2 separate regions of the Homo sapiens genome follow, and region 1 is linked to region 2. Evidence: fine-mapped expression QTL. A gene starts in region 2. The other region holds a variant in brackets. All regions are shown on one strand. Distances are from middle to middle.

Region 1 (15,147 bases), 140 kb after region 2:
TGCATATTTTTAAGGTAGCATTGCTTATAAAAAGTCATCAGCTCAGCTACCTGCATTTGGGAGTCTGGGTGTTGAGGGCGGGGATTTATACAGCACCTGGCCTTATAAGTTGAGTATTCATGATAGGTGAAGAGGTGAAGTTTTTTGTTCATGAGAATCACTAATGAAAATCAGTTGTTTAGAATGTGAAGGGCACAGCCTACACTGCTAAAACACTCCCCCTAGTGGGAGTTTGGTAGAATACAACCAAGCCCCCTGTGTCCAAAGAGGGAGTTGGCCTTTCATTGTACTCCGGGTGATCTCTCTCCATTATCCGCGCAAAGGAAGGGCCCGAGAGCAGGAACAATTTGATCTTATATTTCTTTGGGTTTTGTTTCAAAATTTATTTTACTTTCTTTAAAGCTCTATCATGTTAAATATGTTCTGTGCAGTTAAAATAATGCATGTTCTTTGCTGAAAAAAAAAAAATAGAAGTGTAGTCTAGGATATACTGGGGACAAAGGGGAAGTAACCAGAGATTAAACCTTCTTTTAAAAATTACCAGTCGGGCGTGGTGGCGCATGCCTGTAATCCTAGCCCTTTTAGAGGCCGAGGAAGGTGGATCACCTGAGGTCAGGAGTTCTGAGACCAGCCTGGCCAACATGGTGAAACCCTGTCTCCACTAAAAATACAAAAATTAGCTGGGCATGGTGGCTCACACCTGTAATCCCAGCTACTTGGGAGGCTGAGACAGGAGAATCGCCTGAACCCAGGAGGCAGAGGTTACGGTGAGCTGAGACTGCACCACTGCACTCCAGCCCGGGTGACAGAGCAAGACTCCATCTCAAAAAAAAAAAAAAAAATTACTTACAAAGGCCAGCCACAGTTGCTTATGCCTATAACCTCAGCACTTTGGGAGGCCAAGGCAGGAGGACCCCTTGAGCCCAGGAGTTCGAGACCAGCCTGGGCAACATAGGGAGACCCTGACTCTAGGGAGGGAAATTACCCACAAAGCCAGCAAACAAATTGAGCGTTCTGTATTTTTATTGTAGAGTTTATACCAATATCCATTCTATAGATGCTCTCTGTTGAAATGATTCAAGAAAAACGAACATCTAGTTTTTCCTTGGAATGTGGCCCAGACATTGGTGTGCATATCCCAGGACTCATATTCTTTAAGCTTTTGGATAATTTTGCAAAATCATTTCTTCTTTAAAATGTTATATTCACACCATAATATTTCTTTCTGAAACCTCTTGAGATACCCAAACAGTGGCTGCCAAAAAGTGCAGTCAGTGTAAAACTAATGAAATGAAATGATGTAAGTAGCCGCGTTATGCAGATGGCTGTGGGTAAAGCCTAAAGCCCCAAGCAGGTGTGAACAGTAGGTACTGTCTCCTCAGACCTCAGGACGGGGCAGAACCAGCTCCTTACCCCAGCCCTCCTGACCGCCTTGATGGCAAATCATCAAGCATGTGACATTGAGGAGGTGTGATGGATGCAGGTTGACATTGTAGTTACACCTGATCACGTCAAGTGAGAATCCAGGTTAGGTGCGTGAATCTGCTGGCTCAAGGACTGCAATCACATCTGGCCTATTGAGGGAGGGGCATCTCGTACTTGTGCCATAAAACAATGACTTTCATCCACCCAATTATCAGAGGAACTTGAATCCCTGCAGTAATAAATCAGACAGTGGCCGGGCACGGTGGCTCACGCCTGTAATCCCAGCACTTTGGGAGGCTGAGGTGGGTAGATCGCCTGAGGTCAGGAGTTCGAGACCAGCCTGGCGAACATGATGAAACCCCATCTCTACTAAAAATACAAAAATCAGCTGGGCGTGGTGGTGGGCGCCTGTAATCCCAGCTCTTGGGAGGCTGAGGCAGGAGAATTGCTTGAACCCGGGAGGTGGAGGTTGCAGTGAGTGGAGATCACACCATTGCACTCCAGCCTGGGCGACAAGGCGAAACTCCGTCTTGAAAAAATAATAAAAACTAAATCAGACATAGGATCTGCAGCTAAATAATAGGTCCCACCAGCTTCCAATGTACTGTCGTAATGCATAATTTTAAGAAGTTATTAAGTCTTCTTTCAACCTTAGTAAAGAGAAGGCCTTTTGACACTGTTTGATGTGAATATTGCAGCCGTGCCATCCCTTAAAAGGACTGTTGAAAACTGATAGGCTTTCCACATACAGTTTTACTGGGTGGAATGGACAGATAGGAACAAATCAAGAGGCAGGAAGTCAGGGTAGGTGAGATGCCTGGAACCCAGAACCCCTTGTCTTCACAGGCACCCACAGCCCTTCACAGTCCGCTCCCCTCACTGTGTGCTGTTGCCAAGCCTGGCATCAAGGGTGCCCTTCCTTTGAAAGATTCCACCACCCCTGGGAGGCTGACAGCTAGGAAGCCTACAAGCTTGCCTGCGCCCCCTTGGGTCTCTGCAGCCTCCACCTGGAGATGAGCGTCAGGCAAGAGTGTGCATACCATACACACACAACGCAGGCTTGGGGTCGTTTCCTGTGAAACTCATCAAGACCATGCTTTGGAGGATTAGGGGTAGGGGTGGTCCTGTGTATGTTGCATGTTTGTATGATCTCTTTGCACTGGAAAAATAACTTATAACTCAAGCTTCCTCAACTTCCCTAGCGCTGCGAGTCTCTGGAATGCACCCCTCTCCTATCTCGCAGCCCCTGTCTGCCCTGCCTGAGTCACTCACACCTTCCTGGGGGCGGGGGCAGTGGAAGCCAGGGGTTCAGGGGCACAGCCAGCCCTGGGAACACACCTGAGGTGATGTGGAGGCTGCTTTTGCCTTTCTTCACGTCCCCAGGGTCATCTTGGTCCTCCTGGGGGATGTAACAGGTGGTGAGGATTTGGGCCGAAAGAAGTCCTCACTGGTTTGGGGTTCAGGCTGCTGGCGTGGGTCTAGCCCATTCCCGGCGACATCCCTGGCATGGGCGTACCTGGTGGTGCCCCTCTGAGCCCTCCCCGCTGTGCTTGCCCCACAGACAGTCAGTCGGATGCGGAGACTGCAGCCGCCGCGGGCGAAGTGCTAGACCTCACCTCACGGGACAGAGAGCAGCCGTCGGAGGGCGCCACTGAGCTCCGCCAGGTCGCAGGGGATGCGCCTGTGGAGCAGGCCACGGCGGAAACGGCCTCGCCGGTGCACCGGGAAGAGCACGGGCGTGGGGAGAGCCATGAGCCGGAGGAGGAGCATGGCACTGAGGAGAGCACTGGGGACGCCGACGGCGCGGAAGAGGACGCGTCGAGCAACCAGAGCCTGGACCTGGACTTCGCCACCAAGCTCATGGACTTCAAGCTGGCGGAGGGCGACGGCGAGGCAGGCGCCGGGGGCGCGGCCTCGCAGGAGCAGAAGCTCGCCTGCGACACCTGTGGGAAGAGCTTCAAGTTCCTGGGCACCCTGAGCCGCCACCGGAAGGCGCACGGCCGCCAGGAGCCCAAGGACGAGAAGGGAGATGGCGCCAGCACTGCAGAGGAGGGGCCCCAGCCCGCCCCTGAACAGGAGGAGAAGCCCCCCGAGACCCCGGCAGAGGTGGTGGAGTCGGCCCCGGGTGCCGGGGAGGCCCCGGCGGAAAAGCTCGCGGAGGAGACGGAGGGCCCCTCCGACGGGGAGAGCGCGGCCGAGAAAAGGTCCTCAGAGAAGAGCGACGATGACAAGAAACCAAAGACAGACTCCCCCAAAAGCGTGGCCAGCAAGGCAGACAAGAGGAAGAAGGTCTGCAGCGTGTGCAACAAGCGGTTCTGGTCGCTGCAGGACCTGACCCGGCACATGCGCTCCCACACAGGTAACCAGGGCAGGCCAGGTCCCCGGCCCAACAAGAGGAGGCGAGCCGGGCACCTCTCCTAGGAGCTCCCCTGAAGCGGCGCTGGAGGCCACCGAGAGAACGTTTGCTTACGTTGCCGGTGTGCCCTTTAAGCCCGTGAACTAGGAGTTTTAAGGAGTTGTACTCTCAGCCCTTGAAGACGGTGCAGGCCTCCTGCAGCCAGGCAGGAGAGGGTCCTTGGCCGTTGTGTTTTTGAGAACGCTGTGATCCGCCTTTAGCTCTGCTGCCTCCGCCTCCCCATCTGTAGAGTGGGGGTAACAGCTGCCCTGTTTCATAGAGGTATCTAGGAGAGGGTGCTTGTGCTGGGCATTTGGGCCACTTAGTCCTGTCTAGTCCTGTGGCCTGGACGACAGGCACTGCCCCAGGCCGCTGTGGGGCAGGCACCCTGGGTGATCCATTAGGGTCAGGAGGGCCTTTTCCTTTCTTAGCCGTGCAGTTCGGCTGAGATGACTGGGACAGGACCCTTAGCCACTGCCCTTCACACCGTTCTAGAGTTCACCCACCACCTGCAGGGTGGAGGCTGCAGACCCCAGAGCAGGGGCGCTTACTTTGACACAAAGACCTGAATATGCTCATGGAGTCCAGAGATATATCCTTCTTCTTTCCAAAATAACCTGTCCCTCCTCTCAGCCGCAGCTTCCCTCCCTGTCACAGCTGCAGCCCGCAGTGAACACATGTGCCCCGACCCAGCGCAGTCGGCTCTGCCCTGCGCTTGCCCGTGTGAAGGGCCAGGGTCCTTGGCTCTCAGAAGAGGGATATTCTTGGGCTCCCAACAAGCGTGGTGGGCCCTGCCCTGGGCCTGGCGTGTGAGCCATCAGGAAAGCCCCCGCTGCACCACATCGCAATGCAGAGGGTAACTGGTGCCCCCGACCTAGGTGCTGCTGTCCATACAGATCCCTGAGAGGGTCCACTCCTGTCCCCCTCTAGATTCCTTCCCAGTCTCTGGTCGAGGCCAGTCTGCACATCTCCTGAGGCTTCTGCTTCTGGGACCTGGGTTTTCTGGATCAGTATGTAGAGTGCCTGGGCTGAGAGAGGAAGGAGAGGAAAGGTCTCAGACTGACAGCTTGAACCAGCAAACAGAGCTTGTCCGTCCTCAGTTTGCTGGTTCAAGGAAGAGGCCTCTGGCTGAGTAGGACGGAGTCCTGGCCCCCCGCACATAGCCTGGGAGCCTCATTCTTCCTGTGCAGAGCAGGGTGCAGTGGGTACTGGTGCCTTTTGGTTAATGGAAATTCTTTCTTCCATTGTTCCAGGGGAAAGGCCATACAAATGTCAGACCTGCGAGCGAACCTTCACCTTGAAGCACAGCCTGGTTCGCCACCAGCGGATCCACCAGAAAGCCAGGCATGCCAAACACCACGGGAAGGACAGCGACAAGGAAGAGCGGGGTGAGGAGGACAGCGAGAATGAGTCCACCCACAGCGGCAACAACGCCGTCTCAGAGAACGAGGCTGAGCTGGCTCCCAATGCCAGCAACCACATGGCTGTCACCCGGAGCCGGAAGGAGGGCTTGGCCAGTGCCACCAAGGACTGCAGCCACAGGGAGGAGAAGGTCACGGCAGGGTGGCCGTCTGAGCCTGGCCAGGGTGACCTTAACCCAGAGAGCCCGGCGGCCCTGGGGCAGGACCTGCTGGAGCCGCGCAGCAAGAGGCCTGCCCACCCAATCCTGGCCACAGCTGATGGCGCCTCCCAGCTCGTGGGGATGGAGTGACAGCCTCAGTCCCCCTCAGCACAGACAAAAGCCAGCAGAGCAAAGCGTCTATACTTCATGGGGTTTCCTCAGTGCCCTTTGGCTGTTGAGGAGTGAGAGAGAGAGAGAGAGAGAGAGAGAGAGAGAGAGAGAGAGACAAGCAGGAGCGTGGCTGCTCGCTCAGTGCCATAGCCTTACCGCAGCCTGCGCGGGAGGCCACAGCCCGTGCCGATTCCAGTGCCTTAACTACTTACCGGATCCCTCCATATTATCATGGGTGTTGTATTTTTCCAAAATGACTTCTTAAACAAAACAAATATTATAATGAATTGTCTGGAGAGGACCTCTTCATTTGAGCATTAGCGTTATTTTGTATTGGTGTGTGTGAGCTTGTTCTTGTGAATCTGTGATAGCACCGTTTGTTCTGTGAGCTGGAAACAGAAGGAAAAAACATACCCTTGGGTACCCATAGCCAATAACTGGAAGAAAATGATGTGAATTTCATGTAAATGACCAGAGGAAAGATGGATAAGATGATAATTTCTTAAATAGACATTTTCCTTTTTTCTTTGTGCTTCATGGTGGAGCTGTCATCTGGTCCTTGGTATTACAGGATGTGGTTGATGAAGGTTTCCAATATGGTTTCAGGCCAAAACCAGGGAAGATTCTAGCTTCAGCCTCATGTCCATTTCCAGTCTGTCAGCATTAGACATGGTCACTGTTCAAGTTTCAAGACATCCATTCTTAACTATAGAGAAGAGTTACTCCCCTGGCGTCTTAACCTATGGAAAACATGCACGGATAGGATATATTTGATTGCCTCCTCTTCCCTTTCAGTATATGTATTATTAATATTATTATTATTATTATTATTATTAGTTCATCAGTTTGCTGTTCTCTGCAGTGAGCAGAATCAAATGGGCAATATTTGTCCTGGGAGACCTGTGCCGCACCCAGGTCCCCGTGTTAACGTGTGCCTGCGGTTGTGGTTGGCACCCTCGGGTGGTAGCTCTTCTACTGTAATGAGACAAGCCTTTCTTCTGTCACTGCAGAATTTAGAAGGGGCCGTGAGCAGTCTTCCCAAGCATGGTCCAGGAGCAGCTCAGAGAGGGTGGAGTGAGGATGCATGCATCCAGGGAACAGGCATCAAGAAGCCAGGGCCGTGCCTGGAGCACTGCAGAGATGACTTTGGAGAAAGCAAAGCAGTGACCCAGTGACCAGGCACATTACTCGTGAGCGAGGTATTCCCAGTCTTCCTGCTAAGCCTAATCCAAGCCTTACCCAGCTGTGCTACTGTCATTTGCAAAGCAAGGAAATACTACTACTGGTAATAAAACTACACATGCAAGATGTCAGATAAGAAATAGGTTTATATTTACCTTCCTGCGATGTGGGGTTGGTGCTTGAAGATAAATGTGCTGTTTCTAGTTTCTTAAATAGCCCACACCCCTGGATGCAAAAAGGCAGGGTTATTTTTACCCATGAGCATCCTGTGCAGGCAATAGACTTCCCTCACTGTCTCCGCCTGCAGGGAGGAGAATGTACCCCACTGCACCTGAGCTCCTGGTCCCTCAGCCAAGACCTCAGGGGTCCCCAGCCAGCCTGCTGCTGGGGACCCCTGTGCTTGCTGCAGTGTATGGAGCCTCTTGCCTTCCCCTGGGGAGGCACCCCTGTACCCCAGCTTCCTTCCCCTGGCCTTTTCTGGCCCCAGTGCTCCTCCTTTACATAGACTTGTTCACACAGAAACGTGCACGCCCCCTTTTCTCCGCCACTTCACCAGTTTCTGAAATCCAACCTCCCAGACTTCACAGGAAGATAGATATTCTTGAGATAATGAAAAGTGATATCTTCGCATACGAAAGGAAAAAAGGTTGAGGTATATATGATTTTTAACTGTATTAGGGGTGTATGAACCAGTTTAAAAACGAGGTTTTATTTACTGTAGAGATGAATGCAAATCAGAACCAATGATCCCTTGGCCTACTTAGTTAAAACCAGTTCATACATCCCTTAGGGTTTTTATTATTATTATTATTATTATTACAGTTGTTATTGTTGTTTTTGTTGTTATTATTATTTGGGGTTTCTTGTGTTTTTTCTTTGCGACTCTCCACACTAAACTTGCAATATTGTGGGGAGAAGCTGTGACTAAACTCTACGCTGCGGTGAGATGTAGCAGTAATCAGCTCCCAGCGACGTGTGTAGCTGGGGCTGCCGCTCGCAATAATCACTATTGATTTAAAGCTTTACTTAGCCTTGATCTGTACCCTCGTAGTCAATAAGGTCTTGCCACATTTTATTAGTGAGGTGGAGAAACGTATTATTTGTTTGTTGTTTTTGCCCTTCCCCCACCCCCCAATATTAAACTGTGAAATTTGTGATTTGTTTAAACTCTGGGTGAATCATAGCTTAGTTTGCATGTCCAGCTAATTTGTTTCTATACATTTTGTTTGATTCTCTTTCTCCTTCTCTCAGGGCTTTTACAAAAAAATATATATATATGGATCTTCTGAAAAGTTTTTTGAGGTGCAAGTTTTTTCTCTTTTTTTTTTTTTTTTTTTTTTCTCATTGATTAATGGACATGATGCTGAGATTCAATCACTACATGAAACACCTGGCTGTGAAAACAAAACAACCCAGAGGGCTGTGTTCCAAGCAGCGCTGGGGAAGCTACGTAACAGTCGGATGCCAGTTTTGGAAGATTCACCATGCGTTCTGACCCTCTGTTCGTCTCTTTCCTCTCCTCTTTCTTCAAGAAGGAAATTGATCCTAGTGATTTCAGCCCATGCATTAAACAGGAAACAATAATAAATTTGTAGAATTCATATTTTTCTAAAGGGAACTTAAAAACTGCTGCTACATGTTATGTACAAAACTGGTTTATGCCACATGAACAGAGAATCACAAGTTTGGTTTTGGTACTTTTTGTTCCTCTTTGTATTCAGTTGTATAGAACTTCCAAATTCAGAATGAGAAGAAAGCTGTTCTGTATCAAACCATTTAAGCAATAAATGTTATATTTTAAAAGCTGCAGATTGCCGGTCACGTGGCCGTCCTGTGATTTGTTGTGATCCCATCCCCAAACCCACAGCCCACTTGGGGCAGGTCCCAGGTGTGCAGTACCATTGGGGGGAGTCACAGGTGCCCAGGAAAGCTCTTGTCACCCAGGCAGCATTTTTATTTGCGCTGGAGGCTGTGGCAGTGACTCTTGCCTATGCTCCCAGCACTTTGGGAAGCCAAAGCAGGAGATTCACTTGAAACCAGAAGTTCAAGACCAGCCTGGGCAAAATAGTGAGACCCCTATCTCTAGAAAAAAATGTTTAAGAACTAGCTTGGCATGGTGGTACATGCCTGTTGTCCCAGCTATTTGGGAGG[T/C]TGAGGCAGGAGGATCGCTTGAGCCCAGGAGTTTGAGGTTGCAATGAGCTACGATCGTTCCTCTGCCCTCCAGCCTGGGGGACACAGCAAGACCCTGCTGTATGTAAAAGCACTCGGCTGCAGTTGTGAGAGCTGCTTTGAGAGCATGTGGAAAGTTAAGTGCATGGCCACTGTCAGAGCTTCAGAGTGGAGATCTTGGTGTTGGGTGCACAGGGCCAGGAGGCTGGACCTAATGAGGCACCACAGTGCAGGCCACTCTGTCATTGGCTAAAGCCAGCATTTTTGTTTCCTGTGCAATAATGCCTAAGAAGTCCGCCTCGCCTCTTCTTCCTCCAACCCAGTGGTAAGTGATTGAGTCAGCACCTAGTGGAGGGAGAACAAAATCTGTTAGTGTGACCAGATTTTGGTGAGACGGGAGGGGACAGCAACCCTAGGGCTGGGGATGGTGCAGGTTAAAACTCACATTTGGGTAAAATAGCAATCAGCAGAGCCCCAACTCCTAGCAGAGCCTCAACTCCTATAACTAGGGAGTGGCTCTCAAAAAGCAACACTGGGGGCTGGGTGCGGTGTCTCACGCCTGTAATCCCAGCACTTTGGGAGGCCGAGGTGGGTGGATCACAAGGTCAGGAGATTGAGACCATCCTGGCTAACACGGTGAAACACCATCTCTACTAAAAATACAAAAATTAGCCAGGCATGGTGGCAGGTGCCTATAGTCCCAGCTACTCGGGAGGCTGAGGCAGGAGAATGGTGTGAACCCGCGAGGCAGAGCTTGTATTAAGCCGAGATCGCACCACTGCACTCCAGCCTGGGCGACAGAGTGAGACTCCATCTCAAAAAAACAAACACTGGGCCGGGAGTGGCGGCTCACACCTGTAATCCCAGCACTTTGGGAGGCCAAGGCGGGAGGATCACTTGAGGTCAGGAGTTCGAGACCAGCCTGGCCAACATGGTGAAACTCCATCTCTACTAAAACTGCAAAAAAATTTGGGTGTGGTGGTGTGTGCCTGTAATCCCAGCTACTCGGGAGGCTGAGGCACGAGACTCCCTTGGACCCAGGAGGCAGAGGTTGCAGTGAGCCGAGATGCCGCCACTGCACTCCAGCCTGGGCCAACACAGTGAAACTGTCTCAAAAAAAAAAAAAAAAAAAAAACGAACACTGAAAGAAGTTGGTTGTGGAGGAGGCTGATTGTGGATAATGCTAAAATGCATTGAGTGCACTGTACCATACACTGCTAAGTGCCACCTCCCTGCAGGACCAGAGCTGTGGCTGTGGTCCTTAAGCTTTTTCAGGCCCCTCTGTTGAAAGACGTAGAATTTAACACACATTTATATGTGGGAGCTTGGGGGATCCGCATGCCTGAGTGGGCGGTGGCAGGTGGAGATGTACTAGCCCTGGGTAAGCGGATCTCAAACCTCAGGTCCTCCGCCCAAAGACATAGCCAACCACCTGCGCTGTGTTAGAGATGCAGGACAAAGAAGTGGCCACGAGCTGTGTTGCTGGGGACAAGCTGGCTGGCATGACAATCCCAGTTCTGCCTCTTCGGGCTGGTGAATGGCCTTGTGCCTCAATTTCACCATTCCTAAGAAAGGGATAGCGATAGTACCTGCCTCATGGGCACTGTTGTGTGGATGCTATGAGTTAATTACATAAGGTGCATGTTAGGGGCTCTCGTTATTGTTTCTACAGTCTTCTCATGGGAATGCTTCCTTGGTTGCCTGGTGAGGAAGTAGGTAGAACTTCACCACACACATTCATGGCACAGTGCGGGGAACAGCCAGAGGAGGGCCTTGTGGGAGATCACCAAGATGCAGGCACTGTCTTTGAACCCCAGGGAGTCTTGTCACCTTCTCCTACCTGGCCTCCTCTGGCCCTGTAATCCCACTACCTTCCCGCTCAGCCTGTGACCTCCCCATGGCCCCAGGACTCTGCCTGGGCCTTGGTGCTTATCCAGCATCCCCACCCTGGACCAAAGCCTCCTCCACTGGAGGAGGGCATGGGGCATGGGGATGGGGGAGCTGGCGGCATAGACCTAGCACCCAGGATGAGGCCTAGTCCCTTGTTACCTTACTGCTCAGAGTGTCGTCTGAAGACCCAAAGCATCAGCATCCCTGGGAGCTTGTTAGAAATGGCAACCTCAGGTTGACCTGGTGCGGTGGTGCATGCCTGTTGTCCCAGCACTTTGGGAGGCTGAGGCAAGAGAATCGCTTGAGGCCAGGAGCTCAAGGCTGCAGTGAGCTATGTTCACACTCCAGCCTGATTGACAGAGCGAGATCGCATCTTCACAAAAATAAAAACGTAAACCAAAAAATAAAAGAAATGAGAACCTCTGACCCACCCAGACCTGCTGAGTCAGAATTTGCATGTGAACAAGGGCCACAGTGGATATGTGCACACATTGAAGTTTGAGAAGCTCCGGTCTAGACCCCAAAGCTTGGTTCAGAATAAGGTGGATGGCGGACTCGGCAGCTGGCTGCAGAGACGGCTGTGGATTCTCCCCCTCAAAGACAGAATCCATCTCAGAATGAGTGGGCAGAAGCCACATATGGCTTTAGAGAGTGCCGATCTTGGCCCTCCAGAGGTTCCTTCCACAGTCCCTACTCCAGCCCCAGCACAGACTCAGCCACTGCCTAAACCCGAGTGCCCCAAGAGTCTTGTTTGGGGTTTCTGCCTGTTTGCCATCCTTGTGGATTCCAAAGGCTACTTTGAAAGGGCTGAGGAGCGAGTGGGGCCTCCAACCACTGGCCAACAGCGCCAGCTGCCTGCTTGCCTGTCCTGGTGTTAAGCCTTGGGCCTGGAGCGCTCAGGCCTCTCCCCTTCATAACCACCTCCCTGAGGAGGACAGGAGTGAGGGAGGATGACTAGGCTTATTTTAAGCTTGTAATTGAAGGTTGCTCTTTAGCAACAAAAGAGTCCCCTCCAATTCTAGACTGCCAGAGTCAGTGTCCTAAATAAGAAACAAGCGGTCACTCCTTTCCCGTTTTACTGTTAGGGGAAGGAAGCCACAGCCCAGTGGGGAAGTGACATCCCTGGCCCTTGCCGTTCACCACTTCAAGTCTTGCCCAGCTGTCAGGGCAGGAATTCATGTCCCCACGGTGGCATCTGCTTCCCAGGCTGTGGGGCCAGCAAGGGGCTCAGCTGCTCCCCAGCCCTGCCTTCCTCCATGGATCTGACATGACTCTTTTATGGGAATTTACGTAAAAGTAACGCCTTGCTCAGTGTGGAAAATTTAGGAGCTTCAGGAAAATATAAAGAAAATTAAGGAAGTCATCTCGCTTCTCAAATACCGTGTTAATTTGGTGAGTGTTGCTCTTTTCATTGGGCCTCACTTTTCCCTTCCTCATTCTCAGATGTGTTTGTACAGGACTTTGCACACTGCAGTGTTTTCCTGTGGTTTTTGTTTCTTTTCTTCACCCAAGTCCAGTGAGCTGTGAAGGAAAAAAAATCCTTATTCCTTCAGAGCAGGGACGAGCATTGAAATGATTTGCCCAGGTCAGCTGGCTATTGAGTGCTTTTGTTGGGATGAAATTCTCCACCAGAAAAATCCTAAAACAGAAGTCCCCAAGAATGGGTGGTGTGTGTCGTCCACTGAAAAGGGAGTTACTGAAAACTAGGAATGCGTGGCCTCTAGGAAACATGGCACTGTTGTGATTTGGCACATAGATATTTGGCATACATATTCCCAGGGTCACTGAGTAAATTCCCAACTGTTCCAGTTCTCTTTTGCTGCATGACGAAGAACACCAAAACTTTGGGTCAGGATTCGGTGGGTTGGGCAGGGCTCTGCAGGGATGGCTCATCTGTCCTCCATGAGGCATCAGCTAGGGCAGAGCCTCCAAGACCATTTTTTCTCGCTCATATCAGGTGCCTCTGTGTGTACAACCCACCCACTCACCTACCCACTAAAAGAACCATTCTTTGGGTTGCTTGTTAAAAATTGCATTTCAGGCCGGGTGCAGTGGCTCACACCTGTAATCCCAGAACTTTGGGAGGCCAAGGTGGGCAGATCACCTGAGGTCAGGAGTTCAAGACCAGCCTGGCCAACATGGTGAAACTCCATCTCTACTAAAAATACAAAAATTAGGCTGGCATGGTGGCAGGTGTCTGTAATCCTAGCTACTCGGGAGGCTGAGGCGGGAGAATCACTTGAACATGGGAGGCAGATGTTACCATGAGCCAAGATCACGCCACTGCATTCCAGCCTGGGTGACAAGAGTGAGACTCTGTCTCAAAAAAAAAAAAAAAATTGCATTTCAGATCTACTAATTCAGGATCTCAGGAGGGAGGACCCAGCCATATACATTTTTAGCAAATTCCTAGAGAATTTGCTAAAGCCCAGAAAAGTTTGCAAACCAGGGCTCTGTTAAAGACTGTTCCAGATTCCTGCCCCTCAGTTGTACCTCTAGTTGCCCCTCAAGCTAACACCAAGGCAAATTGTTTGCAATGGAGCCATTGTTTGGTCTGGGGTAACTCTCTGATATCTAGGATATGTACTGGAAACTTCCTTCAAGCCTCCTGCCTGGCCTCTTTCCCTGCTTTTGCAGCCACTCCTCTACATACATTGGCACAGGTGCTCCCACCCAACTTTACCACCTACCCCCCAAAAGGGAACTTCTAAGAACCTGTGGCTGGGCTCGACCTTGGCACTGAGTCTAGGAGCAGTTGCCTCCACCTGGCTTACCTCCCTGAAGCTTTGGGTCCCTGGTCTCCTGATACGCACTTGTCAGGGCTGGCTCATAATGCTGGGATCCATATGGATAAATGAAAATGTGGGGCCCCACTCTGTCGCCTGGGCTGGAGTGCAATGGCACAATCTCAGCTCACTGCAAACTCCACCTCCTGGGTTCAAGCAGTTCTCGTGCTTCAGCCTCCTGAGTAGCTGGGACTGTAGGCATATGCCACCACAATTGGCTAATTTTTTTTGTATTTTTAGTAGAGACAAGGTTTTACCATGTTGCCCAGGCTGGTCTCGAACTTCTGGCTGCCTCAAGTGATCTGCCCTCTTGGTCTCCCAAAGTGCTGAGATTACAGACATGAGCCACTGTGCCCATCTTGTGTTTGTTTTTGTTTTGTTTTGTTTTTTGTTTTTTAAGAGACACGGTCTCACTCTGTCGCCCAGGGTGGAGTGTAGCGACGCAATCTGAGCTCACTGCAGCCTCAATCTCTCAGGCTCAAGTGATCCTCCTGCCTCAGCTTCTCGAGTAGCTAGGACCAAGGTGCACACCACCACACCCGGCTAATTTTTTTGTATGTTTTGTAGGATGGGGTTTCGCCATGTTGCCCAGGCTGGTCTCAAATTCCTGGGCTCAAGCAATCCTCCCACCGCGGCCTTCCAAGTGTTGGGATTACAGCGTGAGCCACTGTGCCCGGCCAATGGGCTCTCCAAGGCCACATTACCTTAGACATTGGGATACTTACATGCAGGTGTCCACAGGTGCCTGAGATCTCACATCCACCCGACCCTCTCTGCCTCCACACCCAGGCCTCCACCAGGAGCCAAGGGGGCCGCAATCACTAGGCAAGGGCAGGGGGTTGAGTGGCCAAGAGCCCGTCCCAGGGAGGCAGGAGAGAGAGGGAGGCAGGACCACATAGGAGCCAGGGCTCCCGGCAGCCAGTGCACACTCCATTGTCCCATCAGAGTTCACTGACGAATCTCAGTTCAAAGATAGTATCGTAAAGAGTTTCAAGATGGGGCCCTGGGAGCATTGAACTCCAAGCACAGGCCCTCGCAGGGGTCCCACTGCAGGAAGCCGGCCCTGCTGCTGACCCTGCCCACCTCCCTCAGCTCCTTGGTCCTGTCGGGTCTCCCTGCTGACCCCATGGCACTGCTCCACGCTCCTGTCTGTGGGGCCCCCGTCTGTCCCCACCTAGAATTCTGTTTCCATACCAAGGCCTAACCAATGGCCCCTGACCCCGTTCAGTGTTTTGAACCAGCCACTCCTGTTTTTGGCGGCCCTGCCCTCCCATGAATCTCACGCCCACGGCTGCCCTCGGATCTGGACACAGTTGCACTTGTTATCTGGTATCAGCACTAGGGAGGCTCAGTCAAGCCAGCACTAACGGTGGGTTTGGTGTCCTTGGGACTTCTCCACCCAGGGCCTGTGCCAAGGCTGGTCCTCAGTGCTTGGTCAAGAGTGGCTCTGGCGGCTCTGGGGTGGTGGCCTCTGCAGCTCAGTGCCCCTGCCACCCATGCTCACTGGATGGGGGCAACACCCTTCCTCCCAGTTCAGGGTGGATGGGCCCCAGAGCACCACCCAGCCA
Region 2 (15,147 bases):
CTATACAGAGGAGGCCCTGGAGCGGGGCCTGGGCAGAGCCAGCCCTTCAATAAATGCTAACTGTTAATGGTCATTGCTATTGTTATTTTTCTTTCTTTCCCTTCCTTTCTCACCTAAGTTCACGCCAGAGCACAGGGCCTTCACTTCCTCTTCTTCTACTCACTGTTTAACCCCTTGCTTTCTGGCCCCTGCCTACCATACTCACATGAACTCACTTTCTCAGCTCTCAGCCTTTGTTTCTGCCACTTGCCTTGGTTTCTCTTTGTTTGTTTGCTTTTTGCATAAGTTTAAGGGGTATAGGTGCAGTTTTGGTACATGGATATATTGCACAGTGGTGAAGTGTGGCCTTTTAGTGTAACCATCACCCGCATGATGTACATTGTACCATTAAGTACTCTTACCCCCTGCCACCCTCTCACCCCTCCAAGTCTCCAGCATCTATTATCCCACATTCTGTGTGGTTTCTCTGTGTTTTAACACTGTGGGCCACCTTTTCCCTTAGCTGTTCTGCTTCTTTAGAGGCAAAAGAGAAGGAGCTCTTACCACTCCCTCTTCTTTTTCCACTGAATTGCAGCCATTTCCTTGGGTCCTGCCCTAGCCTGTCATTGTCCATGGTCTCTTTACCTAGACGTGTCTTTAGGCCTCCCTCCTGAGTTCCCCTCCTCTCCAATTCCACAAGTCGCACCCCCATCCACGACTCATGCCGCTGGTGAATGGACACACCCTCTATCCAGTTATCTAAGGCCAAGCCCAGAGAATCGGCCTTCTTAACTCCATGACTTCTCACTCCACAACCAACGGGGACCAAGCCTTGCGGATCTGTCCCCTTGACATCTCCTGTCTCTGGTCCTTCCTGCACTGCCACGGGTCACGCTAACTGCTGCGGCAGTTTCACCTCTTTTGTTGCCACACACCCTGGTCAGTGCTCCAGAAGGATTGTTTCCTTTCCTCTCACAGTCAGTTGGTCAAGTTCTGTTGATTCTATGGCCTAATTATGTCCCAGATGAATCCATTCCTCTCCACCTCTACAGCCAGTGCCTCTTCCACCCCTACAGCCAGTGCCTCCCTAGGTCTTTATTCTTGCTTAACTAAATTCTTCTATTACTATTAATTCCTAACTCCCCCTCCTGCCTTGTCCTGCCATCCTTCAGACCATCCTCCACGGTACCCTCCTCCGTGAGCCCTTTCACGGCCTGACTGCTGGATAACGTCCAAGTCCGCTGTGCATAGCGCTCTTGGCGATCTGGCCCACTGGCTACTCCTACAGCCCCATCTCTGGCTGCCTCCCCTCCTCCCTCTGCTGCTCCAGCTCCAGAGGGTGGTATTTGCAGTTCAGGAAACTGACCTTGTTTTACGCCTCTGTGCCCTTGTGCTTGCAGCTCCCTGCCCACTCTGGCTGGAGTGCCCTGCCCCCTCCTCTCTGCCTGGGGACACCTACACAGCTGTGAGACCTCATCCAAGTGGCCTTCTCCAGCATCCACACCTTTTTTCTTCATGATCCTCTTCCACAGCTTAGCTCTGTTGTCCATTTATTTCTACCTCCAGGCTCAATATCACCTACTCTGTCACCTTCCACCTCAAATGGGTTCCCCTTCTCCCTGACTTTCTCATTTTTGTCCTTCTGTCAGCTACCTAGCTAAGACCCAGGCATCATCTTGGCCCTGATTTCTGCACCTTACCCCCCATCCCTCGTTCCCCCTCCATTATGGGTCCACCGCTTGCTTCTCTGTGAGTTCTTCCTCTGAAGTGCTTCTTGACCTCCTCTACCCTCACCCTAGTTCAGGCCCTTGATACCTAAGCTTTTCCACAGCCAATATTCAGAAGTTTTCGTGGGACAGGCTCAGCTTATTTACCTTTTAGTCTCATCACCCATCTATTCCTGTAAATGTTATATTCAGCCAAGCTGTAATCCTTACTGGTCTCCGAGTGGGACCCATAATTTGTTACAATCGTGCTCTTGTATCTGCTGCTGTTTTTAATTCCCAATCTTCATCTACTGAATTTCTAGTCATTCTCCATGGCCCAAATCCATTACTTTCTCTTCCATGAAGCTTTCCCTGATCACTCTTCTTAGAATTGATCTTGGCTAGGGGCAGTGGCTCACACCTGTAATCCCAGCACTTTGGGAAGCAGAGGTGGGCAGGAGTTCAAGACCAGCCTGACCAACCTGGAGAAACCCTGTCTCTACTAAAAATACAAAATTAGCTGGGCATGGTGGCGCATGCCTGTAATCCCAGCTACTCAGGAGGCTGAGGCAGGAGGATCGCTTGAACCCGAAAGGCAGAGGTTGCAGTGAGCCGAGATCGCACCATTGCACTCCAGCCTGGGCAACAAGAGCGAAACTCAAAAAGAAAAAAAGAAAAAAGATCAGCCTGGCCAACATGGTGAAACCCCATCTCTACAAAAATACAAAAATTAGCCAGGCATGATGATGGGCGCCTGTAATCCAAGCCACTCAGGAGGCTGAGGCGGTAGAATAGCTTGAACCCAGAAGGCAGAGGTTGCAGTGAGCCGAGATTGCGCCATTGCACTCTAGCCTGGGCAACAGAGTGAGACTCTGTCTCAAAAAAAAAAAAAAGAAAGAAAGAAACAAGGAAAAGAAAAGAAAAAAAGAAGTGATTTCTGCTGGGCACAGTGGCTCACACCTGTAATCCCGGCACTTTGGGAGGCCAAGGCGGGAGGATCACTTGAGGTCAGGAGTTCGAGACCAACTTGGTCAACATGGTAAACCCCATCTGTACTAAAAATACAAAAATTAGCTGGGCATGGTGGTGGGTACCTGTAATCCCAGCTACTTAGGAGGCTGAGGCAGGAGAATTGCTTGAACCCGGGAGGCAAAGGTTGCAGTGAGCTGATATTGCACCACTGCACTCTAGCCTGGGCAACAGAGTGAGACTATGTCTCAAAAAAATAAAAAGAAAAAAAAAGAAGTGATCTCTTTGCTCTGAACTCCTGGATTTTGTATGTATTTAATTTTTTTTATTATATGTTAGATTACGTCTCAAAAAAAGTGATCTCTTTGCTCTGAACTGAATTTGGTATGTATTTAATGTTTTTTATTATATGTTTTATGTTATATTATATATTATATATATTAATATATATTATATGTTAATTAACATATAATATATAATATTATATGTTAATTAACATATAATATATAATATTATATGTTAATTAACATATAATATATAATATTATATATAATATAATATATATAATATATAATATTATATATAATATAATATATATAATATAATATATAATATATTATTTTATTTCATGATTACATCATGAGGATGCAGAGATCAGATTGCAAGCTCTTTTAAGGCACAGATTATAAATTACCCATTTTTGTATCAGTTCTCCACTACAGAACCCAGCACAATTCCATATATGTCTATACAGCTCAGCTTTATTGGGATATAACTCACATACCATACAATTCACCCATTTAAAATGTACAATTCAATGGATTTTTAGTATATTTAGAGTTGTGTACCCTAACCACAATCAATTTTAAAACACTTTAATTTTAATTAATTTTAATTTTTTTGAGACAGGGTCTCACTCTGTCGCTGAGTCTGGAATGCAGTGGCACAAGCATAGCTCACTGCACCCTTGATCTACCAAGCTCAAGTGATTTTCCAGCCTCAGACTCCCAAGTAGCTGGGACTATAAGCATATGCCACCATGTCTGGCTAAGTTTTTAATTTTTTTTAATTTTTCCTTGAGATGGTGTTGTGTTCTGTCGCCAGGCTGGAGTGCAGTGGTGCGATCCTGGCTCACTGCTATCTCCACCTCTGCCTCTTGGGTTCAAGGGATTCCCCTGCCTCATCTTCCCCAGTAGCTGGGACTACAGGCACACACCACTATGCCCAACTAATTTTTTTTTGTATTTTAGTAGAGACGAGGTTTCACCATGTTGGCCAGGATGTTTTTTTTTTTCTTTTTTAGACAGAGTCTCGCGGGAGTGCAATGGCGCGATCTCAGCTCACTGCAACCTCCACCTCCTGGGTTCAAGCGATTCTTCTGCCTCAGGCTCCCAAGTAGCTGGGATTACAGGCACCCGCCACCATGCCCGGCTAATTTTTTGTATTTTTAGTAGAGACAGGGTTTCACCACGTTGGCCAGGCTGGTCTCAAATCCCTGGCCTCAAGCGATCCTCTGCCTTGACTTCCCAAAGTGCTGGGATTACAGGCAGGAGCCACCTTGCCTGGTCTACACTGTTGTTGCTGTTGTTTTGTGAATGGGAAGCAAGATACTTCTTATATGGCAGAGTGAGAGGGAGTGAGAGAGTGGGAGACAGGGAGGGGGAAGGGGAGAGGTGGAAAGAGGAGGGAGGAGGGAGGAGGTGGGGAGAGGGGTAGTCTGGCCTACTACATTTTTAGCATCCCAAAAAGAAACCCCACACATTAGCAGTCAATCCCTACTTCTCCCTAGTCCTCAGTTCTAGGCAACCATTAATCTACTTTCCATCTCTATCAATTTGCCTATTCTGGACATTTCATATAAACGGAATCATCCATTATTTGTCCTGTTGGGTCTGACTTCTTTCATTTAGCATAATGTTTTCAAGATTCATCCATGTTGTATCGTGCATCAGTACTTCATTCCTTTTGATGGCTGAATAACAGTCTATGTATGGCTGTATCACATTTTGTTTATCCATCCACCAACTGATGAATATTTGAGTTGTTTCCACTTTTTGGCTATTGTGAATAGTGCTGCTATGAATATTTGAGTACAAGTTTTTATGTGGACATATGTTTTCATTTCTTGTTTATGTACCTAAGAGCGGAATTGCTGGGTCATATGGCAACTCTGTGTTTAACATTTCGAGGAACTGCCAAGCTATTTTTCAAAGTGGCTGCATCATTGTACATTCTCACCAGCAATGTATGAAGGTTTCAATTTCTCCATACTCTCTTCAACACTTATTGTCTGTTTTTTTATTATAAACATCCTAGTGGGTGTGAAGTGGCATCTCATCATGGTTTAGATAGCATGACTCCTGAACAGCTGGTTTGACTGCCAAGTTTATTAATTAGCTAGAAATGAGAAACACAGGGCCCAGCATCATGATACTCCAATTTTGAAAATATAACATGTAATAGGCTGGGCACAATGGCTTACACCTGTAATCCCAGCAATTTGGGAGGCCAAGGTGGGAGAATCACTTGAGCCCTAGAGCCTGAGACCAGCCTGGGCAACATAGCAAGACCTCCTCTCTACTAAAACTTTTAAAATTAACTAGATGTGGTGACATGCACTGTAGTCCCACCTACTTGGGAGGCTAAAGGTGGAGGATCACTTGAGACCAGGAATTCAAAGCTGCAGTGAGTTGTGATCCCACCACTGAACTCCAGCCCGGGCAACAGAGTGATGCTCTGTCTCCAAAAAAAAAAAAAAATTAAAAAAAGTTGTAGTAAAACTGTTTTCAATCTTTTTTGTTGCCAGTATTTTCTAGATGGCATTATACAGGTGGCAATTTGTCATGAAAATTCATATAGCATTGGAGATTTGCTAAATTATGCATAAAATTCCAATTTTGATATTTTTCCTATTCAAAACTTATCCCTGAATGGGGAGACCAGGAAAGGCTAGCTCCTGAATCAGAGACAAAGTGAGTAAATAAAGTAGCATTCCCCACAGGGCCCTTCCTCTGCCCTCATTGGAACACATTACAACTTAGAAACACAAGACACCTATTCTATGATGGCAATGTGAACTATTATTCCTGTCTAGAGACCTGCCCATCTCCTCCACGACTGGCCTGTCTTCAAAAAAGCATTTGATAATACATTTGGGGGCGGCGGGGTTGGGGGAGGCTCAGAAAAATGCAACCGCTAAAATTTCTCTGGATGGAGTTTTCTTCAGTAAACAGTAGACCCTGGGAAACATAACAGGTTCCGAAAACTTAATTTTGATGACTGAAAGTCAGAGAAACAGCCAGCTGAATCAGCTCCTTCTTGGGCAGTGGTTTAGCCTACTTATCTCATATCAGACCTAAGGGTCCAGCTGCTTTTCCTTGGTTCTAAAGAGTTCTATTCTGGCCAGGACCCATCCCGAGACAGACACTTCTGTCTGCAGCCCTGAAAACTAGAGGTCAATGGAAGGGCTCAAATTAAAGGCCCACAGTTGGGCTTACAACTCTCCATGGTGTTCAAGCCTTCTCAGAGGAGCTGGTGTGGTGGAGCCAGGGTCAAAGGTCATAGTAAATAGAAAGTAGCCAGCTTTCTGCCTGCATAACATCATCTTGCCTAACCAGACTCAAACGCTTAATTCTACTGTAGTATTCTTTGGACATTCTTCTTTAGAACTACGGGGGCGGGGGGGGGGGGGCGTGTTTATTTTCAACAACCACAATCATCCTTATCTTTCTGAAGATGTTTCCAAAGGCTGAGAACAGACCCCTTTCAGAACCTCGGTAGGAGAAGTATTAACAGTTGGAAACATGTCAGCTGCTTTATGGAGGAAGCACAGCCCAGGCCTGGTTTCTCTGGGCTCCGTGATAACTTGGGGCAAGGCAGCCAGTGCGAAGCGTGGTGGCAGGAGCTGGAGAGATGGAGAGCGGCTCGGAGAAGGGCCCCTGCTTTTCAGAGTTGAAACAGGAGCCCTCTGAGAGAAAGAGATACTGCGTGTGGCTTCTCTGAAGCCTTGGAGGGCGACGTGGATGACACAGCATCAGCCATTCCATCGCGGGGTGGGGACACAGTGGCGGCAGGAACCGTCCTCAGCCCCTGGCGGCCACGGCAGTTCCCCGCTGAAGCATCCTTTGTGGGGTGTGGGTAAGGGAGGGGGACCAAAGTCGGGTCGGAGTTGAGTTTGTTAGACGGCGAGCACACTCAGGGCGGCAGCCCGAGTAAGAAGGATGGCCCCGGGAGAGAAACGGCTCGAAGCTAGGGGCGGGGTGAAGCGCCTGCTCCTTAATCTCCTGCCCCATCATCCACTCGCCCCACCTGGATGCAGAGCGAGGACCGCGTGGAAAGGAAACGGCGCGGGCGGGGCTCCCCCTCGCAGATGCCTCGGAGACCCAGAGGGGCGGCGTCAGGCCAGGGCCCCGAGCCCTACGCCCCCCATCCCCCCAACTCCAGCGCCTCTGAGGTGCCCCTCTCGCAATTCCGAGGCATCACCGTGTCTCCCCCGCCTCCGTTAAAATAGTGAAACTGCGGAGTGAAGTGATGGAAAGCCGGGGGCGGGGAGTCGCCCGCGGCGAGGGGCTGCAGGGGAGGGGGCGCGGTGGCCGAATAAGGTGGCCCGCGAGCAACGGGACGATTGGGATCGCAGCCAGTCGCGGCCTCCCGGACCCTTCCCCTCGGGCAGCCCGGCCCTCCCATGGCCCGGGGCGCCTTGGGAGGGCGTAGGGCAAACCTGGGGCTGCGGTGGGGGGTGGGGAGGGGACTCCACCTCCATCCATCCCGGGATGGCAACTGCGGTCACCCTGCTAAAGTCGGGGCGGGGGCGGCGGTCCTCCCCCTCACCCCCCCCAGTCCGAGCGCCGCCGCCGCCGCCGCCGCCGCCGCCGCGGCCGCTCAGTAACACGTCCCCAGGAGACTCGCAGGAGCAACACGTGATGTGTCTACTTATCAGGGTGAGAGGGGGAGAGCGAGACTCCGAGCGTGCGGGCGAGGAAGCTGGGCGGGGGGCCGAGACGGGGGCCGGGACGACGGCTGGGGCGCCGGGGTCGCCAGCTCCTCGCCCACCTCCCTCCCTGTGGGAGAAGAGGAGGAGGGGAAGTGACTGCGGAGTTGATGAACTTTGCACATCCAGAAACGCCATTTTGATTCCTTTTCCGGAACAAGTTTGCATCTCTCCTCGGTCTCTCCCTGAAGCCCACCGGTCCCCAACGCATCATGCCAGGGAGCCAAGCGTCCTGCCCGGCCGTAAGTACGTGCCCCGGATTCCGACTCGCGGTACGCCGGCGGCAGCGAGAAGTCTGGGGCACAGCCGGAGCGACCTTTTAAAGAACTTTGGGGATGGGGAGGGTGAAGTCTGCAGAGCGCGTTGTACTTTTGAAACTCGGTGTGTCCCGGAGCCGGGGACCCGCACGCCCCACTCCGCGCAGCGTGCGCTCGGGCCGGCGGGGCGGCCAGGGATGAGCGGGGCAGCCCTCTCCCCTCGGGCTGCGCGCCGGGCCATTCCTCCTCCTCCTCCTCCTCCTCCCCTTCCTCCGCTCTTTTCCCTTTCCCGAGCCGCCGGCTCTGCCAACCAGCTCCCAGCGCGAGCCGCCGCAGCGCCCCGCCAGCAGGACCTGATGCGCATCCATATTAGCCGTCCGAGCGCAGGAATCCGGCCCGACCCGCGCCGCCGAGTTTATTTTTAACCAGCACCGCCGGGACTCGGATGGTGCGCGCACCGCCGGCCAGAAACATCTTCCCAGCGCTGCTCTCCATCTTCCGCCCTCTCTCCCTCGACATCCTCCCCCCCATGTGGGAGGGGAAACTTTTCTCCTACATACTTTCGAGTCCTTCTCGGGCCGGGAAGCGCGGAGATGACGGCGCCCGCCCTCCCGCCGCCGCCCTAAGGTATCCGGGGGTGCCTGCCCGGGGTGCTCGCGCGGGGGTGCCTGCTCGGGGCTGCTCGGTGGGAGCATCCGCCGCGCCCTGCTCTGCGGACTTTGAACCTCCCGGGCGGACGGCGCCGGCCGGGAGGGGGCCGCGGGCAGCCCCGCGCCCTCGCGGGTTCCCGGCTGGCGGTCGTGGTCACGCCGACCACCGCCCCGGGGGGCCTGGGGAGGAGGGGACCGGGCCCTAGCCGTGCGGGCACGTATTGTTCCCTCGCCCTTCCGTTGGCGGGGTGAGTGTTTTCGTGGGAGCCCTCGGTGTGGAGCTAGCCTGCCTCGCGGGCGGGGGGGGTGGGGGGCTCGGCGCCGTCACGAGCACAGGAAGGAGGCCGGGAGCATCCGAGGCGGGGCCGGCCGCCGGGGCCCGCTCCGCCGCCCAGCTGTGGAGCGCGCTCGGAAACTTTTGTCCGCCGCCCGCTGGACCAGTTTTTCACGAGTTCTGGGGCTTCCCTTCCTCCTCCCATCCCGGCCCCCGGCGTCTAGCTGGGTGGGGGGAGGGGGCCTGTTGCTGCCCCCCCCGCCCCCAACTTCCCGCACAAGCCTTGGGCCGGGCCCCCCGCGCCCCCTCCCCGCTCGCGGTCTCTTAGGAAACTGCGACCTTAATGGTTGCTAAGGAGCAGGGGAGGTCCTTCCCGTCGCCGACCCCCTCCCTGGGAAGCGGCGTGTTTTCTGGACCGGGCCAAGGGCGCGTCGAGGATGTGACCTGCTCCGCGGCCGCGCGTGAGTGCGGGGCGCGTCGGCCGAGCCCACCGATGGGCGAGGCCACCTTTCTCTCCGGGCGGGGCGGGGAGCTGGGGGACGCGGGGACCCCACGGGGTGCGGGCCCGGGCCGCTTGACAGGCGCCGCGTGCAGCTCGCGCCCCTCGGCCGCCGTGCATCCGTGATGGGTTATAAAAGAGGAGGAAAGTATTTCTCCTTGCTCAGCAGATTTGCCCTCCCTCGCTCCTTACTGGTTAGGAGATAGAACGTGAGCCCAGATCCGGACGAGCAGTTCACATTCCATTACGAAATTCTACACGGCTTCAGAGCCAGCAGCAGCACACATTCGGGGCACTTTGGAGGGGTTTTCTTCGTTTGAGGATGCTCCTGCTGCTGCTGCTTGTGATGGTGGTGGATGTGGAGAGAGACAAAAGGGTGAATAAAAAAATATAACGTTTTGGTATGTTGAAAAACCTGTCCGGGGGTTTTCATTAGTAGAAAATTGAACCCTCTTAGAGTTTAGATTTAAGCTTAGCTCTTTAAAAGCCAGTGGAAATAAAGTTTGCCTGTTGAATGGTGTTGCTGGAAATAGCGAGGAATTTCTGTCTTAAGAAGAAATGATTTCTGCAAAGGCAGAGTTGCTAGTGCATCTCCATTATTTTTGATATTTTTTTTCCCCTTTATATATGTAGTGGACCCTGCATGTGTGCGAGTTGATTCTGAAATAAGTTTAATTGAAGTGGAAGGTGGGGAAAAGAGAACTGCCAAGAAAAGAATGTGGTTTAGTTTTGTTTTTTCACACCCATGAAAATCATCCTCTAGATTTGGTGCTTTTTCAAGTAGGCAGGTATAGTTTCTAAGACATATTTCAACCCGGAAGTCTGAGTTAGATAGAGGCCAAAGTGTTGGCTAAAACCTCTTTGAAAAACAAACGTTGAGTTTTGTGCTATCTTCAAGAGTCCACAGAACTTCTGAAGGAATGGGTTCGAGCTACTCTACAAGTAATTTATACAAAGACAGAATCACTAATTTTAGGGGTGGTGTGTGTGTGTGTGTGTATGTGTTTACCTCCGCCCTTTGGAGGGAGCCTTCTGGGTACCCGCTGATGGGTCCTGCTTTGATGTGCTTTGAGCTTTGGTTACACTGATGAATTAAACATTTGAATGGCTTTAATCAAGTTTTAAATGTGTTAAAAAAATACCTTTCCCCCATTTTTACAAAAGAAAAGGAGAGAAGAACTCTTTGATTTAGTTATTTGCTTAGCTTGTGCTCCATTTTAGGTTAATGAACTTGCATTGTCTTTGTCTTAAAAATACTGCTAAACTGGTTGCATTTTAGAATGTCTTGTTTTTAAAGAGGATTTGCTGGATGTGTAATACTCTTAAGAAATGCTGCCGATGCTTACCGTTTTGTGGAATATCATTCTCTGGGTTTTTCTAGATACTGCTTTATTTCTCATCAGAAAATCAGACTCTAAGCCCTTATGGCAGACAAGTATTTGTTATGTGATGGGGAACATGCGTCTTATTGAGCTGGTACAGGTAGTGCATCCATTCCTAACTAGTTACATCATCCAACAAGCGACCTTTTGATTGAAGGGTCTTTTAAATTTCTTCGGGCAGACTCCCAAGGCCTTATTTGTATCCAACACAGGTACAGCGTGTTGAAGGAAGAAAATAAACCTACACGTATTAGTCCAGCATCTGATCAACAGCAGTTTATTGGTTACCTGCTGTGTGCCAGGCACTGTACAGTGTAGCTGCCTTAGGTCGTTTTTGCTCTTCAATTTTGAACTGTTGCGTTATTCCACTTCTGAGGTCAGTTAGGAAGTCTTTGCTTGCTATCTTATGCTTGCTTGCTAACATCATTTATCACCTTCAGCTAAGGAAATGTCCTAGTTAATGAAGTTTTAAAATGCTACCCTTTTAGGATTTTGCTCAGCATAATTAATATAAATTTAACTCCTATAAGAATTGGTTAAATATATTCTTTGGAAACAGAAGTGAATTCTTTTGATGTTTCTGTTCATTATCCTTCTGAAAAGTAGGTGGTGCTTAGAAGGTCATAGGATAAGGGTTGCTAAGCAGCTAAACAGAAGGATGCTAAAATTAACCAAAGCATTTTTGAAAGGGAGTCATTCCCTGTTTTACATTATTTACTAGGTTTAGTTAATTTCTGAATCTTCTATGTCCTTTGACCTGGGAAGGTAGGATGTTAAAGTTTGTTTTGGTTTTGTTATTATATTTAAATAATCTCTTTCTTTTGTAAGTGTCTTTAATTGAAGTTCAGTACTCTATGACCAGCCTTGTGGTGTCAGATGGCAGCTTGTCTGGTGGACTTCTTGACTATTACCAGTGTGTTCAGGTTGAACCTTCCTGAGGATTTGTGTGTATAGTACCCTCTTATTTCTAGTATTAATAACTGATTCCATGGTTTGTTTTGGAAATTCTGCATAATCCATAAAGTTATGTCTTTTATTCCGCATGAAACAGATTTGTATTCAAAGATAGAAATGCAATTTAGTATCAGTAGAAAGTATGCAATGTAGTCTGTCCTGATAAGGGGACAATAGCTTTCTTTCCCCCTTTACTGAGATTACCATTCCCTTAGATTAGGTTTTGATAGGGCTTCTCCTCCATTTCATTCCACCTCCCTAGTGCAGTTTATTCCGCCCAGTTCATAGCTATCTTTTTAAAAATAATTATATTAGGTTCAGAGTATCTTTGGAAGGACTGGCCAAATGTCAGAAAACAAAAATAGGTGTGATGTACATTACATTTCTGCCAAAAGTATGTTCAAGTATCTTGAAGTTTTTCATTGAGATAAAATGGTTGAAATCTAATTGAAGCCATGATGAGTAACTATCATCTCTTGGTTGAATGGTAAGCCTGTTGTAAGCCAAAAGTTTCCCTGCTTCAAGGTTAATTTCTGTACATCTGACCTATTGAACAGGCAGTGTTGAGTCATATTTTTTATGTCCAAATATAATTAAGAAATTGATAAATGTATTTTCTTTCTGTTTCTTTTCTCTCTTTCTTTCCTGATTTAGACAGTGATTTTTGAGTAGAAGTAGCCATGGCAGTTTTCAAAGAGCAAGGGTCAGACAGTGATTTCCACAGGGGGGTGAGGGTTGCAGGGTTGCAGGTACCTTATATCAAAGGTAAAAGGTACACCGTATGAAACCCAGAGGGAGGCATACGGTGTGCTCTCTGAAATGCATCACTTATTTTTCATTTCCCCCACTCCCATAGAAGGCAGAATACAGAAAAGAAAACTACTGTTGTTTTCATTACTACGGAGGTAAAAGAATGAGGAAGGTGGAGAGGGGTTTTTCCTTTTTTGTTAGCAGTCCTGTCGGCAATGTCATCGACTGTGCTCCGCCCAATTTCTCTTGTCACGTTCTCTGGTGTTCAGCGTGGTCTGAACTGCAGCCGAGTGTAGCTGGGGATTGCACTCTGCCGTTGGCAGTGGCGGGTTGGGGTGAAGCGGATGGGGAGGAGGAGACTGGGAGCGATCGGTGCATCTTATTTCTGGTGGGACTTCAAGGGTACTGAAGTTAGCCAGTCTGCCCATCAGTAGAGGTGGCTGACTGTGAGTAGGTGCTTCAGACGAAAGCATGGGAGAGGGTGGAGATTGTTTGTTCAGTGTGATTCAAGCCAGTAAAGCTAAGAGAATTCGAAAACCTCTGTGAAGTCCGGGGACTGGGGACTGGGTCCTGACTGCTCCTGCAGGGATTCACCTGAGGGCTTGCAGACATCATGAGGGTGGGTGGAGAAAGAGAATGAAAACCCCCACAGGCATTGTCAGACAGCCAGAGTGAAGAGAAAACGTCTCAGTGGGGGTAATTAGATAAAGCTTTTAAATGCTCTATTTGTTTTTCTCTAGTTTGCTTGGTATTTCATCTCTTTCCCCCTTTTCAGAGACTATGGGATAGAATTGTTATGAAAGTGTCTGATACTTCTGGTGGTTTAATCACTTTAAAATTTTTCTTTTTCATTCAGATATACCTTCTAGGACTTAGTTAATTTCACCCTGCTTTTGTGGAGGCCTTTAGCAAAGATTCCACGTTCATGCTGAGAGGAACACTGTGGGAGTTGGGTGGGTATGTTGACCCATTTTACAGCTGCGCGGTGGTCCACCCGGGGGCTGTTAATGAATCAAACTTGGAACCCAGAACTCCTAACTCCAGCCTAGCCCTGTAGAACAGCTGCTTTTTAGAGTCAGTTTGACCTCAGGAGGACTTAGCAGCATTAAATATATACTGCCTATTTATCTCCATGTGTATGGTGTGTGGTTTTTAAATAAGACCAGATCCTTTTCAAAATAAACCTAATTGAGTTTGAAGGTATAAGGAAATTTTAAAAAGCACTTCTGCTCTTGGTAGCATTTCTGTTGATGAACTGTGATGACATGTATCTTTTTAGTAGCCTTTCTACCTCATGAGATTGTTGTAAGGATAAAGTAGATGTTCCAGAAAGTCAAAATCTATAAACGGAAGAAAGTGGTATATTTTGAGCTCAGGAAGCTTTGTGGGTATCCATTCTGGATTTCCTTTCCAGAATTTTGCACACCTCCATTACCTTAGTCAAATTTTGCCTAGGAGTTTATGTTCAGATTGGGGAAATGCAGCACTTTGTTTTTGTTTTTAGTGCTGGGAGACTAACAGGACTAGCAAATTCTTCTTAATGTGGTTCACTTAGGTGAGGCAGAGTCTTGCTGTCGCCCAGGATGGAGTGCAGTGGCACAATCTTGCCTGTCTGCAACCTCCACCTCCAGGGTTCAAGCGATTCTCCTGCCTCAGTCTCCTGAGCAGGTGGGACTACAGGCACACACCACCACGCCCAGCTAATTTTTGTATTTTTAGTAGTAACAGGGTTTCACCATGTTGATCAGGGTGAGGGATGAGTTTTAAGGAAAAAGCTGATGACAAGCTTGGGGCTTACTCTTTGAAGAAGTGGTTCTCAACCTGGTGGGTTTGCCCCCAGGGGACTTTTGGCACTGTCTGGAGACATTTTTAAGTGTTTCTGGTGGGGGGGGGGGCGGCAGCGGGGAGCTGCTACTGGCCTTTAGTGCATAGACCCCAAAGATGCTGTTCCACATCTTGGAGTGCACAGAACGACCCCCATACGTCAGCAGAGCTGAGGTTGAGAAAGCCTGCTTGAAAGGTACAGTAGTCGTGGCCTGGGTCTCATCTACAAGTCCACTGGGTGCGCTGCCTGTATTGCATGCGATATATTTAGAAATCTGAAATTCCATAAAGCAAGTAAGCTCTTATTTGCCTCTGAGGTACCATGGTTGGCAAGTTCGAAGTTTCACAGAAAATTTGGGGTTGAGGAAAATGTTAAGTGGCATTAAATATATTTGAAAACCCCGTAGTAAATGAAAATTCTAGAAGTCATCTACTTCTAAAACAAACTAGATTCATTGGCTTTGTGAAGCTGTTGTGGTCGATGGCTCAGCTTTCCCAGTCACCTCTTCAGTTATTTGGGAAACTTGCTCTGGTGCTGTCATCTGCAGCCTCCTTCATGTTCTAAGTTATGTGGAGTATACCTTTTTTTTTTTTTAAGTGTTTGAACTAGCCCTTACTTGCTTAACAGTTAATGTTTTTGCATTCGTAGTCTCCCTTGTTTTATTTTCTCAAGTTTTTGCAAAATTCTTACATAACCGTCTGCCGTTTTTATAGGGCAGTGTTTCTGAGCCGGGTGCTCTGTCCATACATCTCCTCTTGAGAGGGTGGATGGCTGCCAGCTGCTGTGGTTGGGAGGGATAGGGAGGGAGTAAGGGGATGCAGGGTAGGAGGCGGTGATTATTTTTATGTTAAGGGACCCCAGGCCTCAGACCAGAAATGTCTAATATAGTGTCAGGAGTGATCTTTTAGCCAG

What was found.
Region 1: its variant is fine-mapped to the expression of RREB1 in fibroblasts (GTEx, PIP 0.99).

Annotation. Positions count from the first base shown.
Region 1 is chr6:7,243,438-7,258,584 of GRCh38, forward strand. RREB1 (ras responsive element binding protein 1) reads left to right here. Exons shown (of 13, transcript NM_001003699.4): 12 at 2,987-3,784; 13 at 5,074-8,543. The coding sequence ends at 5,531. Among named protein-coding and RNA genes, the nearest start is that of SSR1, 62 kb to the right of the region's middle. RefSeq lists an enhancer at 14,945-15,147. The variant T/C (reference allele first, on the strand shown) is at 8,886.
Region 2 is chr6:7,100,175-7,115,321 of GRCh38, forward strand. It overlaps RREB1 (ras responsive element binding protein 1), which reads left to right and starts at 7,787. Exons shown (of 13, transcript NM_001003699.4): 1 at 7,787-7,886. RefSeq lists an enhancer at 6,596-6,655 and silencers at 7,006-7,485, 7,546-7,765, 8,556-9,045, 9,066-9,155.